5 separate regions of the Homo sapiens genome follow, and regions 1, 3, 4 and 5 are each linked to region 2. A link means that fine-mapping ties the variant in region 2 to the expression of a gene that starts in the linked region. Tissue or cell type: whole blood. Region 2 holds a variant in brackets; each other region holds the start of a gene. Each region is shown on its reference strand, or each on the opposite one.

Region 1 (4,124 bases), not on the chromosome of region 2:
CTGGATGCAGGGGCAGGGGTGGGAGCCCTCCTCTTCTCTCTGGGAAGATGGAATGTGTAGAGAGTTATCACAGCCCTGCCACAGGTTCCTGGGCTAGCCCCTTATTACCCCTACTTGCACTAGAGGACTCACCTTCATTGGCTGGTGTTGGTGGTGGGGGTAGCTGGCGTCTGTCTGTGGATAGATGGATTGGGAGCCAGGACCATGAGAGGGGACTTTTCTAGTTCCCCAGGCTTGCACTCACCTCTGCCCAACTTCCTTTCCTCCCCTGTGGCCTCCTCACCTCCACTTTGCCTCTGATTCCTTTTTTGTATCTTCTCCTGCACGAGGGCCCGGAAGGCCTGGGCCTCGTCCTCGTCTGCAAAGTTCAGCCCCGCTTGGCAGTCCTGCACATACCTTGGGGTCAGCCGCCTCCCAGGTCCCCCGCAACTTTCCCATCTCCTCTCCACACCCCAAGTGAGGCCCGAGGGCTGGTTGATCACTTACATCTCCAGCGAAGGTGTGGAAGAAGGGGGTGGGGGTGGAGTAGACAAGCTGTGAGTACAGCTCCTGTTCCCAGAGCAGCCGACCAGCCTGGAGAGGTGTAGGGTGGGAGGCACAGTGGCACTGAGGCACGCCGGGGGTGGCAGGCTTTTGTTAGCTGGGCAGGGAGCAGGGTGTCTGGATTTGGGAGCCTCATAGTCTGGTTTGGAGATTTTCAGCTCAGCACCAGAGAGTTGGTGTCTAAGGGTGTGGATTGTGGGGTATAGTCTGGGAGCCATACACTTTTGTGAGAGGTTTGGATTTGGGGTTTGGGGCCCTAGATCTGGGACTTGGGGGCTTGAATTTCATAATTTAGGACTCTAGTCTTAGGAAGTTGAGGCTCATTCACAGATTCAATCCATGCCCTCCCCCACCACCCCAGCCCCAATTCATGACAGGTAGGATTCTAGTATTTGGGGGTTGGAGTTGAGATTTGAAGTTCAGACACATAGACTTGGGAGTTTCGCGGGGAGTCCAGCTAAAGTAAGTGCAATTTGGGGTTTGTGGAGAGAGTTATGGTTTAGGAGTTTGGTGGATATTTGATAGCCTTGGGATCTGGAAGTTATGCTGGGTCCATCTTTATGGGTTTAAAAGGATGAATTTGGGGCTTAAACCTAGAAAGTTCAGGTCAGGGGATTGTGGAAAAGACTTTTTGCTTAAGAACTACCTCGGTATTTGAGTGTTCAGGAATTTTAATATGGGAACTCTGGGGTCTGTGCTGTGGATTTAGAAGGACAGATTTGGAGTTCAAGGATCAATGGAATATTCAACTTTGGGGTTTGTTGAACAGATTTATGACTTAGGAGCTTGGCAAACATCTGGGGTTCAGGAGTTTTGATGAGAGATTCCTGGGATGCAAAATGTTGAGTTTAGAATAGATTTGAGGTTCAGGTACAAATACAGTGCTCATTTATTGGAATTTGTGGAAAAGATTAGGCTTAGGCAGCAGACTAATACTGGGGGCTTTAGAGATCTTGATACGGAGACTGGGGCCAGTCATTGCAGACTTAGAAAGGCAAGTCAGAGTTTGCCATCTGGATGAGTCTTTGGTTCTGGGGCTCAGGGATTCACTGATCAGGTCTGAGGTCTTGAAGCTATGGACACATATGGACACAGATCTGGGTTTGCGGGTTGAGAACTGGCTTGCAAGTCCAGTCGGGGGTGGGGGGGTCACCTGAAGGCCGTAAAGGCGGATGAAGTAGGACTTCTGGGGGTTATCCTTCACGAAGCACACAGCCCCACAATGCTCCTTGGTCCAGTGCTCAGCTCCAGGGGGCAGCGCCAGGTACAGCTGAACAACTGCAGTGGCCAGCGTCTGGGAGAGGAAAGCAGGGGTCAGTGGAGTCTGGTCAGGGGTAGCCACAAGGTCTTGGAGCCAGACCTGGTCCTTCCTGCCTCATGACAGTCATGGGCCCAAAGGAAGAGCTGCAGCCAGAGGGAAGGCAAGTAGACATTGAGATCTTCCTGGGAAGGGTGGATTATGACGGGAAATTCTAGGAGAGGAGATGATGGAGAGGGAAAGGAGGAGCGGGAGGAGGGGAAGAGAGAGAAGGAGGAGAGGAAGAGGAAGAAACGGTGGGGACGGGGCGGGGGCAGGAGATCCCCAGCTCACCAAGCATTTTCGTCCAAGCATCTCAAAGAGTCGCTGGTTCTCGTGGTCCTGGAGGAGGGTGGAGGGTATGTTCTGCTGAACCGCTGGTGCTCCTCGGCCCCCGGGCCTTCCTCCCATTGGGCCCCCACTCATGGTGCTTTCTGCCCTTGTCTTCTCTGGCGAGGCTCTGGGTGCAGGGTAAGAAGAGGAACTTCCGCAATGAGCAGCAAGGGAACAGGAAATGCAAAAAACCACAAGGGACAAGGGAAACAAGTCCTCCAGGGGCCCCTTGGTGGGCCTGGCCTCCTCGTTAGGCTGAGCTTGGGCCCTCCGCCATCAGATTGGAACCCTCCTCCACTTGACTGCTTAGACCCACCTTTTGGATCAGCTTGGGTCCTCCTCCCCCTTTCTTACTCTCTGGGGCCCATCTCCTTCTGACTGGCTCAGACCCTCCTCCCTCTGGCTGGCAGCGAGAGCTTAGCACATCTGTGTGCAGGGCTCCCTGTGGCAAGGAGTAGTCATGGGCCTGGGTGGCCTCCTTTCTAAAGCACCTAGGTAGCCTGAGGCTGAGGCCCGAGGTCCCTAGTCCGGAAGGGTTACTACAGTAAAACTTTTCCTTTTGGCTGGGGACAATAGCTCACACCTGTAATCCCAGCACTTTGGGAGGCCGAGACGAGTGGATCACTTGAGGTCAGGAGTTCAAGACGAGCCTGGGCAACATGGCAAAACCCCATTTCCACTAAAAAATACAAAAATTAGCCAGGCATGGTGGCACACACCTGTAGTCCTAGCTGCTCAGGAGGCTGAGGCAGGAGAATCGCTTGAACCCAGGAGGCGGAGGTTGCAGTGAGCTGAGACTGCACCACTGCACTCCAGCCTGGATGATGACAGAGCAAGACCCTTGTCTCAAAAACAGCAACAACAACAACACAACAAAAACCCTTTTCCTTTTAATTACAGAGCGAGCCCCTGTGATCCACGCCTATCGTGAGTGCTTAGACACTGCCAATGACGCATATGCCTCTGGTCCACTTCCCCATCCCTTACCCTTGCCTCCCCGCAGCTCCCAAATTACTTTCTGCTTGTCATACTTTTTTTTTTCTTTTTTTTTTTGAGATGGAGTCTCACTCTGTCGCCAGGCTGGAGTGCGGTGGCACGATCTCGGCTCACTGCAACCTTTGCCTCCCGGGTTCAAGTGACTCTCCTGCCTCAGCCTCCCAAGTAGCTGGGACTACAGGCACACGCCACCACGCCCAGCTAATTTTTTTGTATTTTTAGTAGAGACAGGGTTTCACCATGTTGGCCAGGATGGTCTCGATTTCTCGACCTCGTGATCCACCTGCCTCGGCCTCCCAAAGTATTAGAATTACAGGCGTGAGCCACCGTGCCCAGCCCATCCCTTTTTTAAAGAAAGGAACTTTATATCATATATGAATGCCTGAACAACATCTTGTTTAGTTTTCATTGCACTTGAAGTTTGTAAAAGCACATAATCTTCAAAGGCTTGCTTTCTCCCCACTGGACATCCTAGTTTTATCTTAACACTCACATAGCACTTAACGTGTGTGCCAGTCACTGTTCTGACCCCTTTGCCCGGAGTGCGAGCCAGGCAGGCCAGGTGTGAGTGCATGGTCTCGTCCCTCCACGCCTTCACTCTTGGCTGTTGCTGTGATTCCTGTTTGCCTATAGTGGTAGCTGTTCATTTATTTCCACTGCCATACAGCATTCCATGGTGTGCATGTGCAGCCTGGGTGTCCATATTCTCCTGTAACAGCCCTTTGGGCTGCTTCTGGTTCTTGCTGTTGGGAGCAACACTGCAGTGTTCACTCCCGCACACATCTCCTGGTCCACATAGGCATGCAGACTCTCAGACGGGAATCTGAGGGCTGTAGGGTTTGCATGTCTCTAACTTCTCCAGATGATGCCAGACTATTTCCACAAGTGAATGCTAGCTCAGTCCCCGGCCTCCCCAGGCCTCAGTTTCCCCATGTATGAGGTAGGCCATTTGGAG
Region 2 (4,144 bases):
TTGTGTTTTTACTTTATGTCTTTCCCCTATCCCTGAGCTACTTCTGATATTTATTTTCTATATTACTGGCTCTCAGCAATTTTTATGATGTGTCTCTTGGCATGGTTTTCTTTTCTTTTTGTAAAAAACAACTTACTGAGATATAGTTCACATATCATACAATTCACCCATTTAAAATGGCTTTTAGTATATTCATAGAGTTGTGCATTTTCCACTATAATCAAGTTTATGACTTTTTCATTTAGTCATCATCCCCACTCCTTTCATCACTTTTAGCCCTAGGCAGTCACTAATCTACTTTCTGTCTCTCTAGATTTGGCTACTCTGGGCATTTCATATAAATGGGATCATATAATATGTGGTTCTTTGTGATTGATTTCTTCACACAGTATAATGTTTTCAAAGGCCACCCATGTTGTAGCATGTATCAGTACTTCATTTATTTTTATTTCCAAATATATTTCTTTGTTTGGACATGTCATTTTATTTATCCATTCATTGAAAAAAAACTATTCTTTCCCCATTGAATTGTCTTGGCATCCTTGTCAGAAATCTACTGGGTACAGACATATGGGTTTATTTATGGGTGCTTGATTCTATTCATTAATCTATAGCTAGCCTTAATGCCAGTACCTCATTGTCTTGATTACTGTAGCTTTGTAGTAAGTTTTGAAATTAGGGAGGATGGCCCCTTAACTTTGTTCTACTCTTTCAAGATTTTTTGGTAATTCTGGTTCCCTTGAATTTTCATATGAATTTTAGGAACAGCTTGTCAGTTTCTACAATGAAATTAACCAAAATCTTGATAGGGCAACCTTATGTAGTGAAGAAGCCTCACAAGTTCAAACAAACAAACAATAAGTAGATAAGTTTCAGTCGTATTACCGTCTTAACACATGTAGCTTTATTTTTTGTGCTTTGGAGTTTATTAAGATTCATAGATCTGCAGGCTTATCGCTTTCATCAGATGTGTAGCATTTTCAGCCATTATTTTGTCAAATGCTATTACTATCCTCCATCTGAGACTCCAACTACTATCTGTTAGACAACTTGATATTGTTCCCACAGATCTCAGAGACTTTGCTCATTTTTTTCAATTATTTTTCTCTTTGCATAGGTGGGAGTTAGTTCATTTTAGTATTACCATTTATTGGCGACAAGCGCTAACTTTTCTTACATTCTAAGGGGGGAAATTGTAGCCTGAACAATGAATCAAAGCAGTACTAAGTCTCAAGAGTACGTGCTTTTCATTGCAGAACCTTACTGTGTACATTTCTATGTACAATAGCACAACATCAAAAGCAGTAGTTTGGGTTTGGGTTTTTTTGTGAAAGTGACTATTTTGTAAACAAAGACAGTAAATATCTAAGAAAATATAGAAATAAAAAACATAGTTCATAATGTTGATATGCATTGTATTCCTTAAAAGAAATGAAACTGTCACCATCATGATCATTTTTCTTTAAAATATCTTCTAAAACTGCTTTGTTTTTGTTTTTTTTAGAAATGGAGTCTTGCTCTGTCACCCAGGCTCGAGTGCAGTGGCACAATCATATGATAGCTCACTGCAGTCTCGAACTTCTGGGCAAAAGCAATCCTCCCATCTCAGCCTCCTAAGTAGCTGGGACTACAGGTGCACACTGTCACACCCAGCTATTTTTTTTTTTTTTTTTTTTTTTTGGTAGAGATGGGGCTTCACCGTGTTGTCCAGGCTGGTCTGGAATTCCTGGGGTCAAGTTATTGTCCCACGTTGGCCTCCCAAAATATTGGGATTACAGATGTGAGCCACTGTGCCTGGCCTAAAACTGCATTCTGATATGACTTGTCACATGGCTTCTCATCTTTTTAAAACTTCTCTTTTAGGTAGTGATTAGCTCTGTTTTAGAGAGTTGTCTGTCATGGTGTCTTTCTGTTTAAATGGTTCAGTGGTCCTCTGGTCACAGCATAAAATTCAGTCTCAAAAATCAGTGTTGTATCAGGTGGACTCTTGCCTTTACATGTATACTTAATTAAAGCACTAAAATATCACATGCTTTTAGAGACACGCAGGCGTGCTCTGTGACAAGAGGCAAGCAGACTGTGCGAAGGAAAGATTTAAGATACTACCTTTAGTTTTCCTTTCCATGTGCAAATGAAGGTGGTGTAATCACTTTCTGCCTCTCTCCAGGGCATATAATTCATCACAGCAATGTCTGGTCCTTTTATGATTTGTCCAACACCAAGAACAAACCATTAGGGGATGGCCTTCATTTTATGCCAGAGTATTTCAAACCTGTTTAGTCAAATAGTGTCATAATGGGCATTTAGCAGGTCTGCCTTCTTGCTTGTCTTAGAGCAGTTTTCTGGAAGTTGCACAATTTCTGTTCTGTAGTTTCACTTTTTCCATTCTTTCCTCTTTCTTTCGTCCCTGAGTAGTGAAGAAGCCTCACAAGTTAAAACAAACAAAACAAAAAGCTATTCTGAATAAGAAACACAT[G/T]TTCCTAGAGTTGGCCCCTAGATGTCTACCACGCTCTTTCCAGCATGTCACTTGCACCCGGTAGCAGCCCCAGGACTGGAGTCCTGTCACGCGGCAGTAATTGTCCTGTCACAAAGTGCTGAGGGTGTGGAGTTGTGTAGCGGGTCCCCTTGTCTGGGCAGGCTCGGCTGTGGAATTTTTGCCCATTTGGTGTGGAGCATGTGCCCCTTTGGTACTGGGCATGTGGGCTGGCTGTCTTCAGTCACTAAGACTGAAGCATTGCACACTTGCACCACTTCTCTGCACAAAGTCTGTGTATTTCACAGCTGATTTCCTCAGGATTGTGTTATAAGGCTTGTGTTTCCTAAAATGAAACTGGCAAAGATGAAATAGCCTAAATGGACTGTTCTTAGAGTCAGAGGAAGTGGTTGTCATTTCTGGGCATAAAAGACTTCTCCTCAGGCCCCTAAGCATTAGTGAGCATTGGAAGGAGTCATTCTGGAGGCAGAGCATAAAAGTCGGCTTGTAGCTGCCCTCTGGGTCCACCTGGGGTGTCCTTGAAGCACTTTCTTGGGGTTGGAGTCCTGCATTGAGGGTTTCCAGGCTAAGCCACACGTAATCAGATGGCCATCCAGGCACAATAAAACCCAGAAATGCCCCTGCTCCTCCACCTCCTTAAAGAAGTTTCTCACCAGCCCACTCCAGTGATCCCTGAACTGCGTTTCTTTGCCCCACCAGGTGGCTACCCTTGATTTGAGGGCCTCTAGTAGTGCCAGAAATGTTCTTGACATTGTCATTTTTCTCATCAACCATATGAGATCAGTAATGATCTACATTACACATATTAAAAAAATGAGGTATCATATCTAGAGGCAAAAAGAAGAAAAAACAAGAAAATGAGGTAATTTGAGTATTGGGCATTTTGTTCTAGTCTCACCACTCATAGCAACAGGGATTTGACACAAAGCCTCTTGCCCCCTGTGATGGTTAATATTGAATGTCAACTTGATTAGATTGAAGGATGCAAAGCATTGTTCCTGGGCATCTCTGTCAGAGTGTTGCCAAAGACGATTAACATTTGAGTCAGTGGACTGGGTGAGGAGACCCACCCTCAGTCTGGTTGGGCACCATCTAATCAGCTGCCAGCACGGCTAGAATAAAGCAGGCAGGAGAAGATGGGAGGGCAGATTTGCTGAGTCTTCCGGCCTTCATCTTTCTCCCGTGCTAGATGCTTGCTGCCCTTGAACATTAGACTCCAAGTACTTCAGCTTTTGGACTCTTGGACTTACACCAGTGGTTTTCCATGGGCTCTCGGGCCTTTGGCCATAGACTGAAGGCTGCACTGTGAGCTTCCCTATCTTTGAGTTTTTGGTGCTTGGATTGATCTACCACTGGCTTCCTTGCTCCTCAGCTTGCAGGAGGCCTATTGTATGACTTCACCTTGTGATTGTGTGAGTCAATTCTCCTTAATAAACTCCCTCTCATATATACATCTATCCTATTAGTTATGTGTCTCTAGATAACCCTAATATACCCCCAACCCCCTGAAACATTTTAGTATGAAAAACTTTGAAATGTACAGGAAAGTTGAATTTTACAGTGAATGCCCTTATACCCACCACTAGATTCTATCATTAACATTTAACTGTTCTCAATGTATTACATACCCATCCATCAATTTACCTTATT
Region 3 (4,144 bases), not on the chromosome of region 2:
TAACGACCAGAGATTAGGCACTGGAGGGTCCACTTGCTGTTCCGGTGGAAACGCAGTAGAAAGCACCCATGGTGGCTGGTCCTTGGGCGGCCATAACACACGGTGCCATCACACTCACACAGCAGGTAGAGGCCCTGCACGCTCTTTAGTCGCACCACGGCCTGTGTCTCATGCTCATTGCTCACCAAGATCTCCCAGGTCTGGAGGCATCAGGAGGGAGAAGAGGGAAATCAGTATCACGAAGTTACCAGACCAAGGAGCCCTGCAACTGTCATGGCTGGTATCACCCTGGCACCTTCATCAGCACCAGCCACCTCCTCTTCCACATCAGCCCTGGTATCTCCTTGCTGTCAGCTCTTCCACTTTCCCACTATCCCCTCATCAAGAGATCTCTGGGCCCTTCCACCCCTGCAGCCAGATGGCACTATCCAAAGAGAAGTTCTAGATGTCTACCTCCTTCAGCTAACAGAAGGTAAACCCTCCCTCCTTTCTTAATCCCACTCTTCAATACCTAATTTTTAAAGAAACGCTTTGGTGTAAGTCTTACTTTTTTCTTCCTCACTGTTGTCCGCAGAGAGCACACTTAGCCAATACCTCCATCCCCAAAGGTTGCCTTCCAGCATGGCAAGACAGAAGCAAAAGCTCTTATAGGCAGGCCCTGGCTCCAGGGATGAAGATGGGAGCATGAACAGTTCAGATGCAACTGCCTGGTTCAGCTGTGATCAACCTTGTTATAAGAGGAAGAACTTTGCCCCTGCCTCAGTCTGGCACCCATCCCAGAGGTGCCTACATTCCTCTCTAGAATGAAGACCGACACTGCTAGGGCTTCTGGAGTTCCCCATTCTCAAACCACAACCAGAACAGAAACATAGGCTTTGCAATAACTCCACTGGTCCAACTTCCCCTGGATGCCCACAATTCTGCTTTCCCACCTGGGCTCTCCACTTCTCCTCTTTCTGACACAACCACCCTGTGCTCTCCACTTCTCTTCTTTCTGACACAACCACCCTGTGCTGGGATGGGGAATAGGGACAGTTAGAGCAGGACAAGGCAGCAAGGGCAAGGCTGAGGCTTCACCTTGCGGAATAAATTGAGAGGTGGGAGATGGGGCAATAGGGTCTGTGAACAAAAGCCTAGAGTAGAAAAGTCTCAGGCCTGGCACTGGCAGAACCTAGGAAAGTGATTAGGTTGAGAGTACACCCTGCTTTCATATACAGGCAAGTGCGCACACACACACACACACACACACACACACACAGCTTGGCCACTCAGAAAACTGGTTCCAGTATACTTTCATATACAGGCAAGTACACACACACACACACACACACACACACACACACACAGCTTGGCCACTCAGAAAACCGGTTCCAGTATACTTTCATATACAGGCAAGTACATACACACACACACACACATACACTCACGCACACACACGCGCGCGCGCACACACACACACACAGCTTGGCCACTCAGAAAACTGGTGCCAGCATGGGTTTGCTTTGTCACCTGTCTCCTGCCCAAACTCTTCGCAGTTGCAGTGACTGTATTCTTGCATGCCTCAAAGGTGAGGTAGGTTCCTGCCCAGCTGATGAGCCCAACCCTTAGGTCCTCAGCCTTGGGATGTCTGTGTATCCACTCTGTCTCATCCATGGGGCTGACACCACAGGTGATGTCTCCGTCTGGCCCAGCCCTCCCCCCCGTGGTGAGGTTCCACAGGCCATAGGGCCTGGAATAGGGCCTGTAGTACCCACCAGATGTTCCCAGAGAGAACTTCCCAGGCAGAGGCTGGCCTGGGGCCCAGCACCTCTGTGACCCGGGAGCATTGTGACTGTGAGGGCAGCCTCTTATCACACCACAGTGGGGAAAGGGCCCTGGCGCAGCAGCATTAATCCATGGCCTAGAGGAGGCGGGTGCAGAGCCTCCGGTGTTTGCCTTCCTATTCCCCTTTGGGCACCAAAGTAGGCTGAGCTGAGACCAGGATCCGGAACTTCAACCTGTGAATTTAGGCAAGTTTTTTCCTTTCTTTACCTCCGTTTCTCATTCTGGTAACAGGATAGAAAGCAACCTCCTTTCTCCCAAGGAAGTGAGTTCTGCCTGGCTCCCTTGCAACTCAAGTATTTTGTTAAGTTCAAGATAACCAAGAAAAATCTATCAGCTTTTATGGCCCTTAGGAGGATGAGGTCAAAATGTTCCAGATGCTATTTTGCAGGGAGTATGAGGAAACCCTAGTTAATCAGTTGACATCAAATTACTCATATTCATCAGGAAGGCTGGCTCAGGACCTGGGTAAGGAGAAGGGCCTAGGTGGAGAGAGCACCAAGCACCCCTCCTCAACCCCAGCTGCTCTGCCAGTGGGTAGGACATCTGGCTGGGCAGATAGAGCTCCTGCAAGGGTATCTTTCCCCTCCAAAGAATCTCTGAGTTATAGTCTCTTGGACTCACTTCCTGCAAAGCTTGAGGAGAAAACCCAGCTCAGAACCTGGAAAAGTGACATGAAAGAAAAACAAAGGCAAAAACAAGTGATGATGAGTTCTGCCTAAGCCTGGCTAGGATCCAAGGGAAAATGGGCAGTCGATCACACTTGGGGAATAAGCCACACCCCTGGTTCCTTTTTCTGAGTCAGGGTCTTGCTCTGCTAGCCAGGTTGGAGTGCATCTCAGTTGACTGCAGCCTTGATCTCCCAAGCTCAAGCGATCCTCCCGCCTCAGCCTCCTGAGGTGCTGGGACCACAGGTGTCCATCTCCATGCCCAGGTAATTTTTTATTTTTGTTTTTTGTAGAGATGGGGTCTTGCCATGTTGCCCAGGCTGGTCTTTAACTTCTGGGCTCAAGCAATCCTCCTACCTCAGCCTCCCAAAGTGCTAGGATTACAGGCATGAGCCACAGTGCCCAGCCACCCGTGGTTCCTTATACCTGCTTTCCTATTCCCCATAGGAGGGGTCTTCCCAAGTAGCAAGAGTCTCAGTGGTGTGCAGCAAGGAACTACAAGCCCCAGACCCCACCGATGTTTTATAAAATAAGGGTAATAGACTATTAGTGGCAGAATTCCCTGGGTAATTTTATTTATTTATTTAATTTATTTATTTATTTTGAGACGGAGTCTCACCCTGTCACCCAGGCTGGAGTGCAGTGGCACGATCTCAGCTCACTGCAAGCTCCGCCTCCCAGGTTCACACCATTCTCCTGCCTCAGCCTCCTGAGTAGCTGGGGCTACAGGTGCCTGCCACCACGCCTGGATAATTTTTTGTATTTTTTTTTTTCTAGTAGAGATGGGGTTTCACCGTGGTCTCGATCTTCTGACCTCGTGATCCGCCTGCCTCAGCCTCCCAGAGTGCTGGGATTACAAGCGTGAGCCACTGCGCCCGGCCTCCTCTGGGTAATTTTAAAGATGCATATTGTTGGGCATCAGACTAGTCCTGATGAATCACATTTTCTGAAATGTACCTCAGGATTCGTATTATTAACGCACATTCTCTCCCCCTCTAATTTTAATGTGTAAGGCAAACATTAAGAACGGCTCTAAGTAGCTACGAGAATGATGGGAAACAATTACGTGGTTCATGGAACTATGAAGGGAGATCCTGTAATCTTCAGCAAAGGCTCCTTGGAGCTGGGAAGGAATGAGATTTGCACCACTGTAAACCCTACAGTATTTCCAGCCCAAGAATAAGGAGGGAGAAGCTGAGCTGAGGGTATGTGTGGGTGGGGTTGCCCTGCAGCCTTAGCTGCTTTGATCCTCTCCCACGTTGTCTCTTGGTACCCAGTAACCTAGCCTCTCCTTTGCAGGCTACAGACAACACCGTGTACAAACCACAGCAAATTTATTACTCAAGATCCAGTGCCACATTATAGCACCACCCGAAGCCCTCACCTTCCCCCTCCCAACCTGGCCCCTAGAGTACACCCAAAACAGAAAAAAAAAAGGAAACCCAGATCCCTGCTCCTCCTCTGGAAGAGGGGGCCTTGGCCAGGAAGCCCCTTCCATAGGTCCCAGCAGGCAGGAGAGTGGACCCCTCTGTGCCCAGAGAGCAAGGCTCCAGGCTCCAACAACAGAGAGAACATGCAGGCAGGAGCAGGAGCAGAGGCCTGTGGCTATGGGGGAGGAAAAGTGGGAGGAAAGGGCACTGCCTGAGGAGTCCGGG
Region 4 (4,000 bases), not on the chromosome of region 2:
GCATCTGCCTTTGTCGCCAGCCAGGAAGCTGTGACATCCTCTGAGCTTGCCTTCTTTGACCCGTCACTCCTCCACCTCCTTTATTTCCCTGATGACCAGAAGTTTGCCATCTACATCCCACTCTTCCTGCCTATGGCTGTGCCCATCCTCCTGTCCCTGGTCAAGATCTTCCTGGAGACCCGCAAGTCCTGGAGAAAGCCTGAGAAGACAGACTGAGCAGGGCAGCACCTCCATAGGAAGCCTTCCTTTCTGGCCAAGGTGGGCGGTGTTAGATTGTGAGGCACGTACATGGGGCCTGCCGGAATGACTTAAATATTTGTCTCCAGTCTCCACTGTTGGCTCTCCAGCAACCAAAGTACAACACTCCAAGATGGGTTCATCTTTTCTTCCTTTCCCATTCACCTGGCTCAATCCTCCTCCACCACCAGGGGCCTCAAAAGGCACATCATCCGGGTCTCCTTATCTTGTTTGATAAGGCTGCTGCCTGTCTCCCTCTGTGGCAAGGACTGTTTGTTCTTTTGCCCCATTTCTCAACATAGCACACTTGTGCACTGAGAGGAGGGAGCATTATGGGAAAGTCCCTGCCTTCCACACCTCTCTCTAGTCCCTGTGGGACAGCCCTAGCCCCTGCTGTCATGAAGGGGCCAGGCATTGGTCACCTGTGGGACCTTCTCCCTCACTCCCCTCCCTCCTAGTTGGCTTTGTCTGTCAGGTGCAGTCTGGCGGGAGTCCAGGAGGCAGCAGCTCAGGACATGGTGCTGTGTGTGTGTGTGTGTGTGTGTGTGTGTGTGTGTGTCAGAGGTTCCAGAAAGTTCCAGATTTGGAATCAAACAGTCCTGAATTCAAATCCTTGTTTTTGCACTTATTGTCTGGAGAGCTTTGGATAAGGTATTGAATCTCTCTGAGCCTCAGTTTTTCATTTGTTCAAATGGCACTGATGATGTCTCCCTTACAAGATGGTTGTGAGGAGTAAATGTGATCAGCATGTAAAGTGTCTGGCGTGTAGTAGGCTCTTAATAAACACTGGCTGAATATGAATTGGAATGATACAAAGTCTGAGCTCTACTCTTTCTGCATTCACGCGTAAGTAACAGTTTCCTGGTGTTTGTCCTCCTGTGCCCACAGGTCCACTTTGCTTCCACGTGGCCATGTGCCCTTCCTAGCTGGATTGCCCAAGGCTGTTAGCATCTGCTTTTTACCTGAGATACTAATTCATCAGGTCAAAAAAAAAAAAAAAAAAAAAAAAAAAGTCTTGAGCACCAGCTGCAGGGAGCCTTCTGCTAGGTACAGGGGTCCTACAGAGAACAAAGTAGGCAGGACCAGTGCTTTCACAGAGCTGAGCTTTCAGGGGGAAGAGTCAGCGGACAAATAAAAATAATTTCACATAATGCATTAGAAAGACAAAAACAGGCTGGTCAGATGGTGACTGAGGGGGAAGGACTTCAGACTGGGTGTGAGGGAGGCCCTTTGAGCAGATGACATTTGAGCTGTGACTAGGAGAAAAGAGGCCATCTGGGGAAGACCATCCAAGCAGAGACCCTGAGCCTGGAACTCACGGGCAGAAAGGCTGGAACACAATGAGTAAGCGGAGAGGTAGTCAGGACCCCACTAGTACCAGTACAAGAAAGTGTTAGAAAAACAGAATGAAGCCCAGGGCAGGATACCCCGACTCCCATCCCCCGCGCCCGTCGCATTTCGGGAGGGTTGGGCCGGGCGGCGGGCGGGATCAGCGCAGGGCCCACCCCAGGGGCGGGGCCGGGGCGGGGCAGTACCTGGGGCCCCGGCCGGGGGCGGGGCTGCGGATGCTCCCACTTCCCCCGGCTCCAGCCGGCGCAGGCAGCGGCGGCAGCAGCAGGCGAGCCTCGGCCCCGCAAGGCCATGAAGGTGAAGAAGGGCGGCGGTGGGGCCGGGACGGCGACGGAGTCCGCTCCGGGGCCCTCGGGCCAGAGCGTGGCCCCCATACCACAGCCGCCTGCGGAATCCGAATCTGGGTCCGAGTCGGAGCCGGACGCAGGCCCAGGGCCCAGGCCGGGGCCGCTGCAGAGGAAGCAGCCGATCGGGCCGGAGGACGTGCTGGGGCTGCAGCGGATCACCGGTGGTGAGCACCCGCGAGGGAGCGCCGCCCGCGGGTGGGAAGGGGAGAGGGTGCGAGGGGCCCTCCCGGCGCGCCAAGCCCTGGCCCCCGCCCCCTTTCCCGCCTCCCCTCCCCCACCGAGTCCCCTCTCCTGTGTCCCCTGCTCTCCCTTCTGCCGCCAGGTCTGAGATCTCTGTGTACCCCCTTCCCTTGATCTCTCTCTGTGCCTCCTTCTTCTCCCTTTCGAGATTTATTCCTTCCTTTTCCAGGGGCCCGTCCCCTTTTCCCAGCGTGGAGGTACGTGCGGCAGCAGCTGCAACCATAGCCCTGTAGCTGTGGAGTCTCCAGAGCGCTTTGAGGCCCGTCCCTGCACTAATGAAGAGAGGGGCTGAGTGCAGCCTGTCCTCAGCCCCCACGCTGGAGGCTAGGTGGAGGCTGAGTTACTTGGGAGGCATTCAGACTCTTCATGTCTCCCCAACCATTAATACCCTCACCCTGATCCTCCAGGAAGACTTGGGCCATTTTCTTCCCCGGGAAAGAAACTGAGCAGGCAGCTTTAGTGTGTTGGCTGTGGTTCCTCTCATGGGGAGTGGCATAATGTCCCTCCAAGCCTGGACTAGCACCTGTCCTCTTCTGGGGGCTCTGTCATCAAGGGAGGCTTGGTCTCCACTGTGGTTAAGAGTTTCTGAGCTGGACTGCCTGGGTTGGAGTTCCAACTCTGCCATATAATTGTCTGTGTGACCTTGGGCAAGTAACCTCACCTCTCTGAGCATGTCTTTTCATCTGTAAAATGGGGATAATGATACCTTTCTCGTAAGATTATTGTGAAGATAAGTCCTCTGATTCTGTACAGTGCCTGGCATCTATGCATGCTGTGTACATTGGGCTCTTTGATCAGTAGTATTTTTGGGCCCTACAGGGCTGCTCATAGCTGCTGCCTGGAGTCAAACAACTTGGCTTTCAGGGCAGGGGAGGGGGTCATCATAGGCAGGGAACGAGGGCTAGGAAACCTCATAGCAGAGGCTTTGGATGAGCCTCAAAGGATGAAAGGTGCATGGAGAGACAGTGGCTCTCCACCTTGGCCACATTCACCAGCAACCTGCCCTGGCCCCCTTTGTGAGAATAACTGTTGGGGGGGGCCTCTCTGTGGGTATGGGGGGCATGTATTGGAGTGGACCTGAGCCCTAGAGCTTCCAAAGCAGCAGAACACCGGACTCCCAGACAGAGCTGTGGAGGGGAGACAGCCTTGAGCCTGTGCTCCTGGGTCCCTGGGGGCCAATTCCTCTCTCCTTACTGAGCTAGGCAGCAGCCATTCTTAGCTGGGCCCCCAGAGTACTGAGCTCCCTTGCCCAAGCAGGCATCAATGGAGAGAGGGAGGCTGGACCAGGCTGATGTTGAAGCCAGTTGGGCTACAATTTGCAATAGCAGCATTTAGGATTCAGCTTAGCTCTGGGGCAGAACTTTCTCAGACTGACTGAGTCCTGAGTAACTTTGGGGGTTTATTTTGCAACTAGAGGGAGCTTCCAGCTCATGTACCACCATTTGTCTCCTAATTTGGAGGAAATTCATAGCCCTTAGAGATGGGGCATCTGTGAAGGGTAAGTAGAGGAAAGGGCTTCATGAGAACCCCTTCCTGTGCAGGAATTGAGAACAGAGTTCCAGGGATTTCCACCCTGGCACCCCTTGCCTGGTCTCTTCTGACCCTAATCATGCAGGTCTGAGGTTTGCTGTTCCCAGATTACTGGGCCCTGAATCCAGCTTAGGAAGCTATTTGTGGCTGAGAGGAATAGAGCAGTTGTGTTCTGAGCCCTTGGCCACTCTGCCCCTTATTCTGACCTGACCCTGGGTCCCAGGCCTCATCCTTTCTAGAAGAGAAGGAGTGGCCGTGGTGTTCTGAGCCATAGATATCCGTGTTCCTCACTTCTT
Region 5 (4,144 bases), not on the chromosome of region 2:
AAAAAAAAAAAAAGAAAGGAAAGAAAGATACAATGGAAGATATGCTAATAAGGGAGGGAGGAGAAAAACACAGCTGGAGGGGTTGCTGGAAACTGGGAGATCAGGCAGGCCTGGGGCTTAGAAAAGCCTAGAGAAACCCTGGGAGCTGGTTAGGGGCCACCACTCTCATCTTTCCCATGGTGTGTCAGGGCTGCGGGTCCCCCTGAAAAGAGAGGCAGAACAAACAGTTGGGTCGGACAGCCTCTACCTCCTTACCCTCCAGAAAGGGCCTGAGATGAGGGATGGGCCCTCCAACTGGATTAGTGGGGGTTGCACTCCTTCCTACGAGTACTTGACCAGATAAACGGGGAAACAAGCTACTGTCAGAGGCTCTGATTGCAACAGCATAAAAAAGGCAATACTTCATCTAGGTGAGAAATTTGACAAAAGTACCTCTCCATGGAGTAAGCTGCAGCTCTCCCTGTATAGGAGCCCTCAAATACATCTTAGTCACCACTCGTTCACGTTAGGAGTTAAGACCAGCTTTCTAGGAAAACCATGTTGCATCTTCCAACAGTAATTACTTCTGAAACAGTAATTTTACCACACGACTCAAGGGGAAAACTTTTTTTTTTTAAATTTATAAAGGAGTTGGGGGTCTCGCTATGTTGACCAGGCTGGTCTTGAACTCTGACCTCAAGTGATCTGCCCACCTCGGCCACCCAAAGTGCTGAGATTACAGGCATAAGCCACGGCGCCAGGCCAAGGGGAGAACACTTTTTTTTTTTTTTTCCTGAGACGGAGTCTCACTCTGTCGCCCAGGCTGGAGTGCAGTGGCGAGATCTCGGCTCACTGCAAACTCCACCTCCAGGGTTCAAGCGATTCTCGTGGCTCAGCCTCCCGAGTAGCTGGGATTACAAGCGCGAGCCACCGTGCCCGGCTAATTTTTGTATTTTTAGTAGAGACAGGGTTTAACCATGTTGGCCAGGGTGGTCTCGAACGCCTGACCTCAGGTGATCTGCCCGCCTCGGCCTCCCAAAGTGCTGGGATTACAGGCGTGAGCCACCGCGCCCGGCCGGAAAACACTTTTTAACACGAAATCGAATACGGATAAACGTGGTGTCATTTGAAAACTCATACATTTTACAAAACAAAAGTTGGGGTGGCTCTTTCAGACAGGGCCGCCGGGTGTGCGCAAGTTCGGGTTTGCTCTTCCTTGCCACGGGGGTAGGTCCCGTAGCACCTAGGTGGAAAGGCCGCGGCTTTTACGGCGGGGTAGGCGAGGGTCGCCCGAGTGATCGCAGGCTCCGACTGGGTCTCGAGGGTCGGCTGCTTCGGTCTGCCCTGGAGAGGTTTTCAGCTTCGGCGCGAGGCACTTGGGCAGGATCCCCGGGCTGCACCCTCCTCCGCCCGCGCCCCGTGGGGCTGGAAGTGGGAATGTGCCCACCCTGGCGGGGACCGGGGGCCGCACAGCAGTTGGGGGTGGGTGGGGGTGGGTAGGAGTAAGGGGACAGGGACACCGCCGCTCGGAGCCCGGGACCCCGCGGCATCCAGTGCGTCTGTGTCGGTCCCAGTGGGAGACCTCCCACCCCGAAAAGAGACCGAAGTGGCGGAAGGAGCCCGCACCCGCCTCCCCAGGTCGGCGGTTTCTCTAGCGCAAGGTGACGGGCGTGGACGCGGCTGTGGGGCCGGGAGCGGAGGGTTGGGGTCTGGCCTCCCGCGCCGGGGCGAAGGGGCAGCCGCAGCGCAGAGGCCCGCCCCGCCCTCCCCTCCCGTCACGCCCAGCCTCCCGGCCCTTGGGCTGCTCGCGGCCTTTTTTTCCCGGCTGGGCTCGGGCTCAGCTCGACTGGGCTCGGCGGGCGGCGGCGGCGGCGCCGGCGGCTGGCGGAGGAGGGAGGGCGAGGGCGGGCGCGGGCCGGCGGGCGGGCGGAAGAGGGAGGAGAGGCGCGGGGAGCCAGGCCTCGGGGCCTCGGAGCAACCACCCGAGCAGACGGAGTACACGGAGCAGCGGCCCCGGCCCCGCCAACGCTGCCGCCGGGTGAGTCGGGGCCCCCGCCCGGCGCCCGAGCCCCGCGCGGGGGTGGGAAGGGGCTGCGGAAAAGTTGGGAGCCCCGGGTGCCGCTTTGTCGCGGGGCCGCGGAGGGGTCGGGCTGGGAAGGCCGCGGGGCCGGGGCGAGGAGGGAGGCGGCGCTGGCGGGGGGCGCTGCGGGCGCTCATGGCGGCGGCCGCCGGGTAAGGCGGGCGCAGCGCCTCAAGGGAGCGGCCGGGGCCGGCGGGCCTGGCGCCGCGGTGTCCGCGGCAGCGCCGCCCTGAGCCGGAGAAGCTTTCCCGGGCAACAGGTAGGGCGGAAGGTGGGGACGCGGGGGCTGCGGGCGACGGGGCCGAGCCGTGGGCTTCCCTTTGTTGGGGAGTGGAGGAGCTTGGTGACCATTGGCGCGAGAGCCTCCACCCTGGCAGCGGCCCGCGGGGTTGCCCTGGCCTGGACGCGTCCTGTGGCTTGGGTGGGAGGAGAGGGGAGGGCCCTGCCCCGTTTTCTTCCTACCGGCCCACCGTGCCCACCTCGCAGGCGAGGTCAGAGCTTCCATGTGCTTAACGGGAAACAGGAAGGAGCGGCCCGGAGCGCCTGCCCCGGCCCGGTAGGGCTAAGGCATACCGTTATGAGGTGTGGATGGCTGGCAAGGGAGCTCCTGGTGGAACTGGCTTTCTGGGCCGTAGCTTGTTAATCACTAGAGGCCCGTGGCAAGTGGGTTGACTGCAGGTGTAGAGCACTCATCTTTAGCCTGCAGTTGGAGTCTCTCCCTCCCTAAGCCTAGCTCCTGGCATCAAAACCTGGTTTCAGTCACCTGAGTTGCCAGGCCCAGGTTCAGGGGGTTCTGAGGATCGTGGCGAATGCAGTGAGCCCCTGTTCCTGGAGAAGTGAGTCCGAGCAGGCCTCCAGCAGGCAGTCACCCCCATATCTGTGCTGGGGCAGGGGTGGGTGGCGGTTGCTGCCGCATACCGGAGTCGGGATGACCGCACCGGGGTGTGAGTGGCTGCACATGTAAAGGGGCTCCTAAGGGTAAGGACTTGCCTGCAGTCCTGTCCCTGAGGACCTGGCGCTGACCATACCGTGATCTGCACAGTCTGTTCCAGAGAGGGATCCTTTTCTCCCCTGGTCCCCCACTTCCCTCACTGGGGCCTCTGGCCAGATTTTCCCCTGGGAGGAAGGGCCTCCTTTTACCCCTGTCACTGGCCATAGGCTGGCTGATCCCTCACTGTGTCCTTCAACACCGCCCCAGCTGTCTCTCAAACCCACCGGCGTCTCCCTGCCCCTGGGGCCATAGTCTCATGCAGTGTTTTGGTCCGTGGAGGCCTTTGGTGGGACTTTGCAGACAAGCTGTAGGCCAGATGAGGCTGAGGACTACTGTTCTGACTGCCTCTCACCCACCTCTTTTTTACAATCTGGCTTATTTTGAGGCCCATCCTGCAGCCTGGAGGGATAACACACCTCTCATTGGCTCCATCCATGGCTTGTAGACTTCTAGTACATGACCTGCTTCTGTTGCCTGAAAGTTTTCAACAAGGAAGACTATTCAGGACTTCTTCAGTGGAAGCAGGGAGCCGGTGGGACCTTTGTCACTCCTCCCTTGTCAACAACTCCTTTCTATTTTCCTCAGTTATTCTTCCAAACTATGAGAGCCAGTCAGACTGACCACCTGGAGTCTGAGAGAATTCCTTCCTCTCAGGCCGAAACTTCTGCCTTCTCAGCCGTTTGGATCTACAAACTCCCATGGGGATCCTCTGCTCCTTTCATCCACCTAGAGGGGTCTTGTGGGGGTGTCAGTCAGAGTTGGGGCAAAGGTTGGGGCTGGACAGAGTCCTGCTCAAGTTCCTGCTAATCTAATGCCAGTTAAATCCCTGCTCTTCTGGCCCCTCTCCAGCCTGTGCCTCAGAAAGTGGCATCTGTGCCTCCAAGGCAGGTGTGTGTGAGAGAGAGCGTAGACAGATACCATGTCTCTTCATGTGTATGGGGGAGTGAAGTCTGGGTGGAAAAGTGTTTCTAGATGTGATTTTCTCCATAAGAAGTCAAGTAACTGCCCTGAAGGCCCAGGGGGCCTGGAAAAACAGGGTTGTCTCCTTACCGTGTGTACACTTCAGCTTTTCTTGCCCCAGCCTCTTGTTTATG

The links. PIP is the estimated chance that this variant, and not a neighbour inherited with it, causes the effect.
Region 1: it holds the start of WAS, and the variant in region 2 is fine-mapped to the expression of WAS in whole blood (TOPMed, PIP 0.93).
Region 3: it holds the start of FSCN3, and the variant in region 2 is fine-mapped to the expression of FSCN3 in whole blood (TOPMed, PIP 0.98).
Region 4: it holds the start of UNC119, and the variant in region 2 is fine-mapped to the expression of UNC119 in whole blood (TOPMed, PIP above 0.99).
Region 5: it holds the start of CERS2, and the variant in region 2 is fine-mapped to the expression of CERS2 in whole blood (TOPMed, PIP above 0.99).

The regions. Positions count from the first base shown.
Region 1 is chrX:48,681,996-48,686,119 of GRCh38, reverse strand. WAS (WASP actin nucleation promoting factor) reads right to left here and starts at 2,321. Exons shown (of 12, transcript NM_000377.3): 1 at 2,135-2,321; 2 at 1,697-1,837; 3 at 487-573; 4 at 284-386; 5 at 133-174; 6 at 1-39. The coding sequence starts at 2,266.
Region 2 is chr6:144,034,952-144,039,095 of GRCh38, reverse strand. It overlaps a transcript of PLAGL1 not described here and the pseudogene LOC100131041. Among named protein-coding and RNA genes, the nearest start is that of PLAGL1, 29 kb to the right of the region's middle. RefSeq lists an enhancer at 2,486-2,535. The variant G/T (reference allele first, on the strand shown) is at 2,477.
Region 3 is chr7:127,591,363-127,595,506 of GRCh38, reverse strand. It overlaps FSCN3 (fascin actin-bundling protein 3), which reads right to left and starts at 1,771. Exons shown (of 7, transcript NM_020369.3): 1 at 1,510-1,771; 2 at 1-200. The coding sequence starts at 1,653. It overlaps ARF5 (ARF GTPase 5), which reads right to left. Exons shown (of 6, transcript NM_001662.4): 6 at 3,807-4,144. It overlaps LOC105375489 (a long non-coding RNA gene), which reads left to right and starts at 3,267. Exons shown (of 3, transcript XR_007060513.1): 1 at 3,267-3,378; 2 at 3,503-3,694.
Region 4 is chr17:28,550,436-28,554,435 of GRCh38, reverse strand. It overlaps UNC119 (unc-119 lipid binding chaperone), which reads left to right and starts at 1,812. Exons shown (of 5, transcript NM_005148.4): 1 at 1,812-2,098. The coding sequence starts at 1,879. PIGS (phosphatidylinositol glycan anchor biosynthesis class S) reads left to right here. Exons shown (of 12, transcript NM_033198.4): 12 at 1-1,049. The coding sequence ends at 216. RefSeq lists silencers at 1,636-2,085, 2,146-2,195.
Region 5 is chr1:150,972,492-150,976,635 of GRCh38, reverse strand. CERS2 (ceramide synthase 2) reads left to right here and starts at 1,801. Exons shown (of 11, transcript NM_022075.5): 1 at 1,801-2,017. RefSeq lists silencers at 1,497-1,936, 1,957-2,446, a cis regulatory region at 2,622 and enhancers at 2,550-2,694, 2,652-3,583.